2 separate regions of the Homo sapiens genome follow, and region 2 is linked to region 1. Evidence: fine-mapped expression QTL. A gene starts in region 1. The other region holds a variant in brackets. All regions are shown on one strand. Distances are between the middles of the regions.

Evidence for each region. PIP is the estimated chance that this variant, and not a neighbour inherited with it, causes the effect.
Region 2: its variant is the best candidate, but not a certain one, in a credible set for the expression of PRDM16 in hypothalamus (GTEx, PIP 0.89).

Annotation. Positions count from the first base shown.
Region 1 is chr1:3,067,233-3,071,601 of GRCh38, forward strand. PRDM16 (PR/SET domain 16) reads left to right here and starts at 1,971. Exons shown (of 17, transcript NM_022114.4): 1 at 1,971-2,064. The coding sequence starts at 2,028. It overlaps LOC124903827 (translation initiation factor IF-2), which reads right to left. Exons shown (of 5, transcript XM_047436614.1): 1 at 2,982-4,369; 2 at 990-1,739; 3 at 105-816. The coding sequence ends at 1,716. PRDM16-DT (PRDM16 divergent transcript) reads right to left here and starts at 493. Exons shown (of 6, transcript NR_015440.1): 1 at 105-493. It also overlaps the pseudogene LOC100420339. RefSeq lists an enhancer at 290-864.
Region 2 is chr1:3,430,806-3,435,170 of GRCh38, forward strand. PRDM16 (PR/SET domain 16) reads left to right here. Exons shown (of 17, transcript NM_022114.4): 15 at 67-303; 16 at 1,161-1,335; 17 at 2,872-4,365. The coding sequence ends at 3,006. Among named protein-coding and RNA genes, the nearest start is that of ARHGEF16, 22 kb to the right of the region's middle. RefSeq lists an enhancer at 2,646-3,155. The variant A/G (reference allele first, on the strand shown) is at 2,267.

The sequences.
Region 1 (4,369 bases):
TCAGGGTGTGGGGAGGGTGGGTAAAGGGGTCGATAGACCCTCGAAAGGACGGCAGGGAATGGGGCTGTGCCATTGCTCATGGCCCTTCTCTAGGCGACACTCACCTGGTGCCAGAAACAGCAGAGGTAGCGGCCAGTGAGCGCTTCCTCCATCCGGGGCTCGGGCGGCGAGCTGGCTGCAAGACTGGGCACCCTGGAGCCGTGGGAGCCTTGGGAGCCGAATCTGGGTTCGAATCTGAGCAGGGAAGCGGTGCCGACCGCGGAGGATCCAAGGCAGAAGGCCCAGCGCACCGCCGCCGCCAGCTCCTGCCCAACCCGGCTCCGCTGGGCTTTTCCTCTGGGGTGGCGCCGGCCCCGCGCCCCTCCCCATCCGGGGCGCCTCTGCTAGGACACCGGGGTCTCGGGGTTTCTCAGGGCTGCTGCGTTTCACCTCCTTTAACGCGGAGGCGCGGAGTTGCACGTGTGGGTCTCAGTGGAGCCGCCACAGGTCTTATTACACAACAAAGGGCAGGGAGGGCAAGGCCAGGAGCCTCGCGGGGCGGCGCAGAGACCCCGCATCGCGGGCGCGACCCCTGCCTCGGGCTCAGGCTGACTCTGCGGCAGCTCCAAGTCCCGTTGCCGGGCAGGACTTCGGTGCTCCGGAAGGGTGCGGGGCAGCAACCTGGCCAGGGCAGCGCCTCGGTTTCCTTCCAATTCATTCTCGATTCCCAGATACTCAGATGAGAAATCCGCACTCAGGCCGTCAGGCTCCTGGGCCCGGGCCACCCTGCCTGCGCTCAGCCCGGCCCCTCCGCCGCAGCGCCTCGGAGTTTGGGGGCTACAGGGGAAGAGGAAGCGTCTGGTCGGCTCCCGTCCGAGCTGCTCCACCTGCGCCGCTGGCCTTTCCGCCCGCTACGCACCTGGGCCCCGAGAGGCCAGAGGGGAGTGTCCCCAGTGGCCCGGGTCCCCGAAGGTGGCCCAGCTCGGGCGCTCGCGCAGCCGGGTACTCACCTTGGGGGCGCGGCGGCAGGAGAGCGCGGGCGGAGAGGTGCGGGCGCCCTGGGACGACCAGCCGAGGACGCCTGGTGTTTGGACGGCTGCCCCCGCGCTGTCCCCCCGTGCGAGGCGTGTTGGCCTCCGTGGCCTCGCGAGGGACCGAGGGCGGCGGGTCCGAGTGCCGCCCGCCGGCCTGGGCAGTGGCGGAGCGCGGAGCTGGCGGCGCCTCCGCTGTTGTTTTTGAGCCGCGAAGCCCGAAGCAGCAGCCGTTGGGTGGGGGCGAAGGGGAGGAGGCGGGGGCCGGGAGGCGCGAGGGGGGCGGTGGGGCCCGGAGGGGGCTTCGGAGGAGCCGGGTTCTGGCGCGCGAGCCCCGACGCCCCCTCCAGCGATCGCAGGGCGGGGACGGGGGCCGAGGGGAGAATGCAGGAGAAAAGCGGGCCGGGGCGACGGGGAACGCAAAGCTTTTAAATTAGTAATCAAACGCAGTAAAACGGAGCAAAACCAGCCCGGACTCGCGTCCGAACTATCGGCGCGTGTGCCCCGAGATCCAAGGAAGTCGTGTGGAAAACCGCAGCCGCCGCCCCATCTTCGGCCCCGGCTGGGGCGGGAGCAGCAGCGCGACGCGCCGCGACGCAGGGGCAGGGTGGGGGGATAGTCACCTCGCCTCCGGGGCCACCTGGGTCCTTTTAAAGTGTCCGGGGTGCGGGCCCCGGGCGGGAGCGCCGAACACGGAATGTTTTCTTAAAGGGCCAGTTCCGAGCTGCGCTGAAAAGGGGGGGGGGGAGAGGGGGGAGAGATAAGTGAGACGAAGACCGAGAAGGCCGAGGAGAGCCCCCCAATCCCGCGCCGAGGCGGCGGCGGCGGCGGCGGCGGCGCGACGATGAGGATGATGAATACATTGCAAAGTTTTTTTGGCCCCGGCGAGGGGTGTCAGATTGAGTGCTCTGTGCGCATGTGCGAAGGTGTCCAAACTGACAATGCTGGGGAGATGAAGATAGTGTGTGGCTGCTTCTGGACTCAAGGAGGAGGAGAGAGATTCCGCGAGCCGACACCATGCGATCCAAGGCGAGGGCGAGGAAGCTAGCCAAAAGTAAGTCTCCCGCGCTCGGCCGCGCCGCGCCGCCGGGGCCCGGGCCGCCGGGCCGGGGCGCCCGGGCCAGGGGTGCGCGTCGGGGCGCGGCCGGCGCGCCTGCGGCTCCGGGCCCCCGGCTCGGCCGCGCGGCCCGGGGGGCTGCTCCGCCTCCCGCGCTCCGGGGCGACCGGGCTCGGCGCGGAGGCTCGGGGCGCCCGGGCCGCGCGCTCCCCGAAGGCGCCGGCCCCCTCCCCGCGGAACCCCCTCCCCCCCCACCAGTGTCAGGCGCTCGGGCCCGGGAACCCGAGGCGCGCGGTGGGGGCCGGGGAGGGGGGCGGAGGGGGAGGGCCGGGGGTGGAGGGGAGCGAAAAGTGAAAGTTAGCGAAAAGTTGACGAAAGGGGAGAGCAACTTTTTCCTCCCCGCTCGCTCTCTCCCTCTCTCTCTCCGAGTGGCTCTCAGTCCTGGTCAAATCATATTCCGGGCTTTTGAAATAGTGGGCGCTAGAGCACCGCCTTTGGCGTCCGCCAGCCGGGCGCAGAGGAGGGAGACCCCGAGCCGGGGAGGGGCGGAGGAGGGGGCGCGGGCCGGCGCCCACCCGGCTCCGCGGGCGCAGGGGCAGGGGTGGCGACGGCGGGACAGCCGCAGCCACTTGGGGAGCAAAATGGAGACTTTTGCCCGGGCTGGGAACTGTGGTCGTGAAGTTTATCCCCGGCTGTGCCCCGCGTGGTGGAGGGCGCTCCTCTGGGACGCCGGCAGCCTGCGCGGGCCGCCGGGGCGACAGTGCCTCCGACAGGAGGGACCCACCCGGCCACCTCCCGACCCGCCGCTGCCGCCCTCGGGCCCGCGTGGACCCCTCTGTACCCGCTTGCCTGGCACAGCCGGGCCCGGCGGGGACAGAGCTGCCCCGGCCAGGCTGCCCGGTCCTCGGTCTTACTTTCTCTTTCGCTCCGTCTCGGCCGAGCCCCGGGCTCCGCGCGCCCCGCCTGCCGCCAGCCGGTCCTTGCCGCGGGCCGGGTGCTCCAGCCACCCGCGCCCTCGCCCGCCACAGCGCCTCCGAGCAGCCCGCGCGCACCCCGCAGCCCCGGTCGCCGGCGCCATCCGCGGTGAGGCGGGCGGGCAGGTGAGGACAGGCGGAGCCGCGGCCCGGCCAGCGCGGCTCCCGCAGCCCCGCCGAAGCCCCGGCTGCAGCGAAGCGGCCAGCGCCGCGCGGAGCGGAATCGGCGCCGCCTGCTCCCGCCGCCCCCTCCTCTGCAGGCCGCCCGCCCGCCCACCCGCAGAAGAGGCGCCCGGGCCGCTCCCCTCGAGGTCCCCGCCCGACCCACGCCGTTCCGTCCGCGCCTCCGGGGCCGGGTCCCTCCAGGCCGGCCTCGCAGCTCCCGGGGCCGAGCCCCCAAACGTGAGCCGGGTGCGCGCGGGACTCGCGGCGGTTTTCCGAAGCTCCGCTCCCTCGGCTCGGGGCCCGCCCGGCTCGTCCCAACAGCTGCCCCGCGGCCGTAGGCCCCGCGCTCTGTGCACCAGGGAAAAGCAGCTCCCGAGTTTGTGCCGGACGCTCCTGCGCCCCGCCATCGGCCGTTCCCGGCCCCTGGGTGAGGCGCCCCCTTCCCGCCGCGCTCCGCTGCCGGGTGCCCTCGGCCTCGGCCTCCCGTGACCTCTGACCCCTCTTGGTGCGAACAAGACCGGGCGTTTCGCCGCCGACGCGAAGGGGCTGTCTGTGCGCGGCGTTGCGGGCCCTCCGCGCGTGGGGTGTGCGTGTGCGTGTTCGGGTTCGGTTCTGTGTGTGCACCGCGGGCCTGCTCAGAGTCGGGACCACCGGGCTGCGTGTGGGCCGCCAGGTCAGGCCCTCGCCCAGGATGGGCCCTAAGCTGGAACGAGAAAGGGGAAACCGGCCGCGCTGACGCCGGGGCCTTCGCTGCAAGCGAGAGGCGGACTCGGCGCACCCGCGCGGCCCTGGAAACTTCCGAGAGGCCCCAGCTCTCCGCCGGCTCCACCTCTGCCAGGTGGGGAAGGTGGCCCGGGACCGGGTCCGCTCAGGACCAGAAGTGGTGCCTGGCAGCCATCTGGCCAGGAGGCCGGAGAGCCGGGCCCAGCGGGAGCGCCGAGCGCTGGCTTCCTTTTCCCGAGAGTCTTTAGTGAGGAAAAACCCCATGAGAGGTGACTGCCAGGCCTCGGCCCTCTGTCCACACTTGGCCGAGCGCTGGGAACCCCTCCTTCCAGGCTCCACAGCTGGGACCGCTTGTCCCAGGCCCCCCAAGGTGGCTGAGGCAGGTTCAGGATCACACTGCCTGCCCTGAGCAAGAAGGCAGGATCCGCTGAAGAATTTCA
Region 2 (4,365 bases), 360 kb after region 1:
CTTTGGGGGTCCATGGGAAGGACAGAGACACCCAAACTCAGTCAATCTCCTCCTGCATCATTTCAGGGCGGACATGCAGATCGTGGACGGCAGTGCCCAGTGTCCAGGCCTAGCCAGTGAGAAGCAGGAGGACGTGGAGGAGGAGGACGACGATGACCTGGAGGAGGACGATGAGGACAGCCTGGCCGGGAAGTCGCAGGATGACACCGTGTCCCCCGCACCCGAGCCCCAGGCCGCCTACGAGGATGAGGAGGATGAGGAGCCAGCCGCCTCCCTGGCCGTGGGCTTTGACCACACCCGAAGGTGGGGGCAGCCGTGTGCTCCAGGATGGGGCAGGGAGGGAACGTGGGCGTCCATCACGAGGGGGACCTCCCTCTTCAGCCACTCGTGAGCCCATCCCTGGCTCAGCCCCTACTCCAGCACAGCCACCTCAGGGCCTCCACACACAGGCCAGGGCAAGGCTGGGCCAGGGGCAACGGGGTCAGGGGCCCTTAACCCCCCCACCCACCCCCAGGGGCCCTGGAGGCTGGAAGCAGAGTGTGGAGGGGAAGGCATTTCCCTGCACTGAGCAGACATGGAGGCCCCCGGCCCTGCAGCAGAGCTGCCTGTCAGCCTGGGACAGCGCGTGCAGCCACTAGAGGGCCGTGGGCACACGGGGGCCAAGCACCCACCATTCTGTGCCGGCCAGGGCCACTTCCCCATGTCCTCAGTGTTCGCCACCAATATCGGGCCTGGGCGACACTGCCAGCATTCCCAGATGCCCTTGGGGAGGCCCTTCGGAGGTGGCACTTCCTCTCCAGCCTGGATGCTGCCCCTGAGTCCTGGGAGAGGGAGCCCCGGGCCTCTCTGAGCTGCCTGGGGTCTTAGAGAATTGAAGCCTTCTTCTCCACCCTCCACTGGCAAGACCTGAGCCCCCTGCCTGCTGCCTGATGCGTGTGCACGCACTCACCCCCTCCCTGACCTCTGTCCGTCACTCTCCTGCATCCGTGTGCCTTCCCGTCCAGGCGTCTGTGTGTCCGTGTGTCTGTCTCCCTGTGCATGTGGCTGGCAGAGATGCAGCGGCGTGCATGCAGGCCCGGAGCTGGGCTTGCAGCATCAGAGAGGCGGCCAAGGCCAGGCTGCTGACAGCAGGCCTTCCCTCTCCCCGGTCATTGGTGCAGGTGTGCTGAGGACCACGAAGGCGGTCTGTTAGCTTTGGAGCCGATGCCGACTTTTGGGAAGGGGCTGGACCTCCGCAGAGCAGCTGAGGAAGCATTTGAAGTTAAAGATGTGCTTAATTCCACCTTAGATTCTGAGGCTTTAAAACATACACTGTGCAGGCAGGCTAAGAACCAGGTAGGTACCCGCCAGAGCCCCTCCCCCACCCCACCTGGCCTCCTCAGCCAGAGGACAGCCAGCACTCCTCTCCCGCCGTGGCCCTCCTAGGCCTGAGGAAGCTCTGGTCACGCAAACGCCCCCACGCTGCATCCTCCAGAGAGGCCCCAGCGACCACCGCCCTCCCGCAAGCTGGGGCGCAGCAGGGAGGGGCTGAGAGCCGATGACCCTGGCAGGACCCTCACGAGGGAGCTCACTCATGGACACGGGCAGCTCACCTTCCTGTGGTCCTCAGTGGGAAAGGTCTGTGAGCAGGTTTCTGGCCCGCCCAGCCGCCTTCGTCTCCCTCCCTCTCTGATCTGGGCCCCAGTGGCCTGCAGCCCGGGCTTTTCCCGGGGGAAGAGCTGTCCAGCCGGGCAGTCTCTGCTTCCCAGCTGGAGCAATGAGGTCAGCGAGGGTGCCAGGGTTTTGGCCCCAGGCGCTTCTCGGCTTCTCTCCTCAGGGTAGGTGGCCCCAGGGCCCTGCTCCCGCATTTCTCTCCAGTCTGTAGGGACTCAGGGTCTCATTCAGCACTCTACAGCCCTCCCAGAGGGAACAGGCCCGCCCCAGGTCTCAGCAAAAGCCGTCTGCGTGTCTGTCTTTGTCTTTTTACTAATTCTGTCTGGAGTGTTAACTCGGGTAGGACAGTGCTGGGCTTCCCCACCTTCCCTGCCCTTAACCCACACACGATGCTCCCCAGGTCCCATCCCCACCTGCCCTGTGCTGGGGGCAGAAGGATGTCCCATGAACTAACGCCTGGAAACACATCTGTACTTCCTAAGAATCCCATTGGCCCAGAAACGCTGCACATCCCTGTCCCAGAGGCAGCTCTTTGGTGTCCCCACGGTCACCAAAACAGACATCCCCTGGCAGGGGTGGCTCTTGTTGACCCCCAGTTCCCAGGGCCGTCCCA[A/G]ACCAGACACGTGTCTGTAGTTTCTGCTGATCACCAGGTGGAGGAAACAGGGGGAAGGGGTGGGAAGGAGAGGAGGCTTCGAGGGGGAGCACCCCAAAGCAGCCAAGGGAGCTGGTGTGCACAGGAGGCCCTGCACCAGCACCCCAATGTCCTGGCATCACTCGGAGCAGGGGGCGGCCCTCGTCCCTCCCGCCGTCACGCCTGCTCATGTCTTCCTCTTCCAGGCTGCGGGGAGAATCCGGGTCTTAGTCCCTCTTGTTCCTTCTGCCCCCTGTGGCCCAGGGCAAGGTTGAGCCAGGCCAGGGCCACGGGAGGCTGGGAACGGACGAGGCTTGGCCCTGCTGGCCGGGGATGGCCTGTCCTGCCCACACACTCACCTGCCTGTCCAGGATGGCCTGCCCTGCCCATCTGCTGCCTGTCTGGGATGGCCCGCCCTGCCCACGCGCTCACCTGCCTGTCTGGGATGGCCCGCCCTGCCCACGCGCTCACCTGCCTGTCTGGGATGGCCCGCCCTGCCCACGCGCTCACCTGCCTGTCTGGGATGGCCCGCCCTGCCCACGCGCTCACCTGCCTGTCCTGTGTGTGTGTCATCCCCTCCCCGCCAGGCATATGCAATGATGCTGTCCCTTTCCGAAGACACTCCTCTCCACACCCCCTCCCAGGGTTCTCTGGACGCTTGGTTGAAGGTCACTGGAGCCACGTCGGAGTCTGGAGCATTTCACCCCATCAACCACCTCTGACGGGCTGGGCAGCCGGGGGCCGGTGGCCAGAGCGAGGGCACCAGCCACGAAGGACGGAGGCGGGCGGGGCCCCGGAGAACCCTGTCCCTGCGTGTGGCCACTCCTCAGCATCCTCCCCACCCACCATGGTTCATTCCGACTTTTCCAATGGAAACTCAGATCCCAAAAGTCCCTAAAGCAGTCGTAGAGTCTCACCATCTCCAAGGATTGGTCTTGAGAACACTGTTCAGTGACGGCCATGCAGGTGGCCGTCCAAAGACAGCCAACGGAGCTGCCTCGCAGAATCAGCCAGTGGGCAGGTGGACGCTCTGCTGAGACAGAAGCTGGTGGCCACTGCCGGGTGCCCGCGTGGGGTCGCGGAAGGGAATGGATAGACTGGTGTGCTCAAAAGAGAGAGATCACTCAAATGATTTTTATAATGAAATGACAAGAATAACCCTTTTGGTAACCGTATTGACTGCAGAGTCTATTTAAGCATGTGGTTTTAAAAATAGACAGTATTTTTTAAAAATCAAAAAATGACTTGCAAATTGTTTTTTAAAAGTAATTTTGCATTGCTTTGAAATTTGAGCTCATTTGCAAACCCGAGTCTGCCTGGGAACCCGCACTGTGCCTGGGTGTATTCTTTATACTGTAGATAATGGAGAAATTTTCTATCTCTGTCCCTATTTGTATAAGCCAAGGTGATGCTGGGTGCCCCGAGGCAGAACAAGAGGCGCGGGGCCACACCCGTGAACCATGCAGACGGCCGAAGAAGTCTTAGGCAGGGCGCCCTGGGCTGCAGGCCTGCCCGAGGCTGGGATGGGAAGTGTGCCTGCCCTCGTGTGACATGGAATTGGTGTCAGGACCGCCACGTGGCCTTCAGAGGAATCCACAGGTCCCCACCCAAGATCCCTCAATTATATGGGGAAGTCGAGGGCCTGTGGCTTGGATCCGCCATGCAGAGATGTGGCCGGGCACCCATCTTCCTTCCCTCCTCTGTCCCTGCCTCGGCCACCCCACGCGGGAACCCAGCGCCGTCCTCTGAAGGCAGGGCCTTGGCCACGTCCTGGGTCTCCCACCTCCCACCTGACCCCAGCGGCTCCGGTGTCCTCCACGTGGCTGCCCTGGGGAGCAATCCCAGCGGATCGCTCCGGGCCACCAAGCCGCACCTGTGCCTGAGACTCCGGATGGACGACACAGTCGTCACGTCGCTCTTCCTGCGGGTTCTTGGCGAGACACAGCTTGAGAACAGAAGGGCGTCGGGGGAACCTGCCGCAAGGAGCAGAGACAGCACAGCCCCCCGGGCCCAGCCGCCTCCCTCTCTTGGGACGCAACTTCTTCCCCACTCGGATGGGCTTTAAATTATTCCCATAGGGG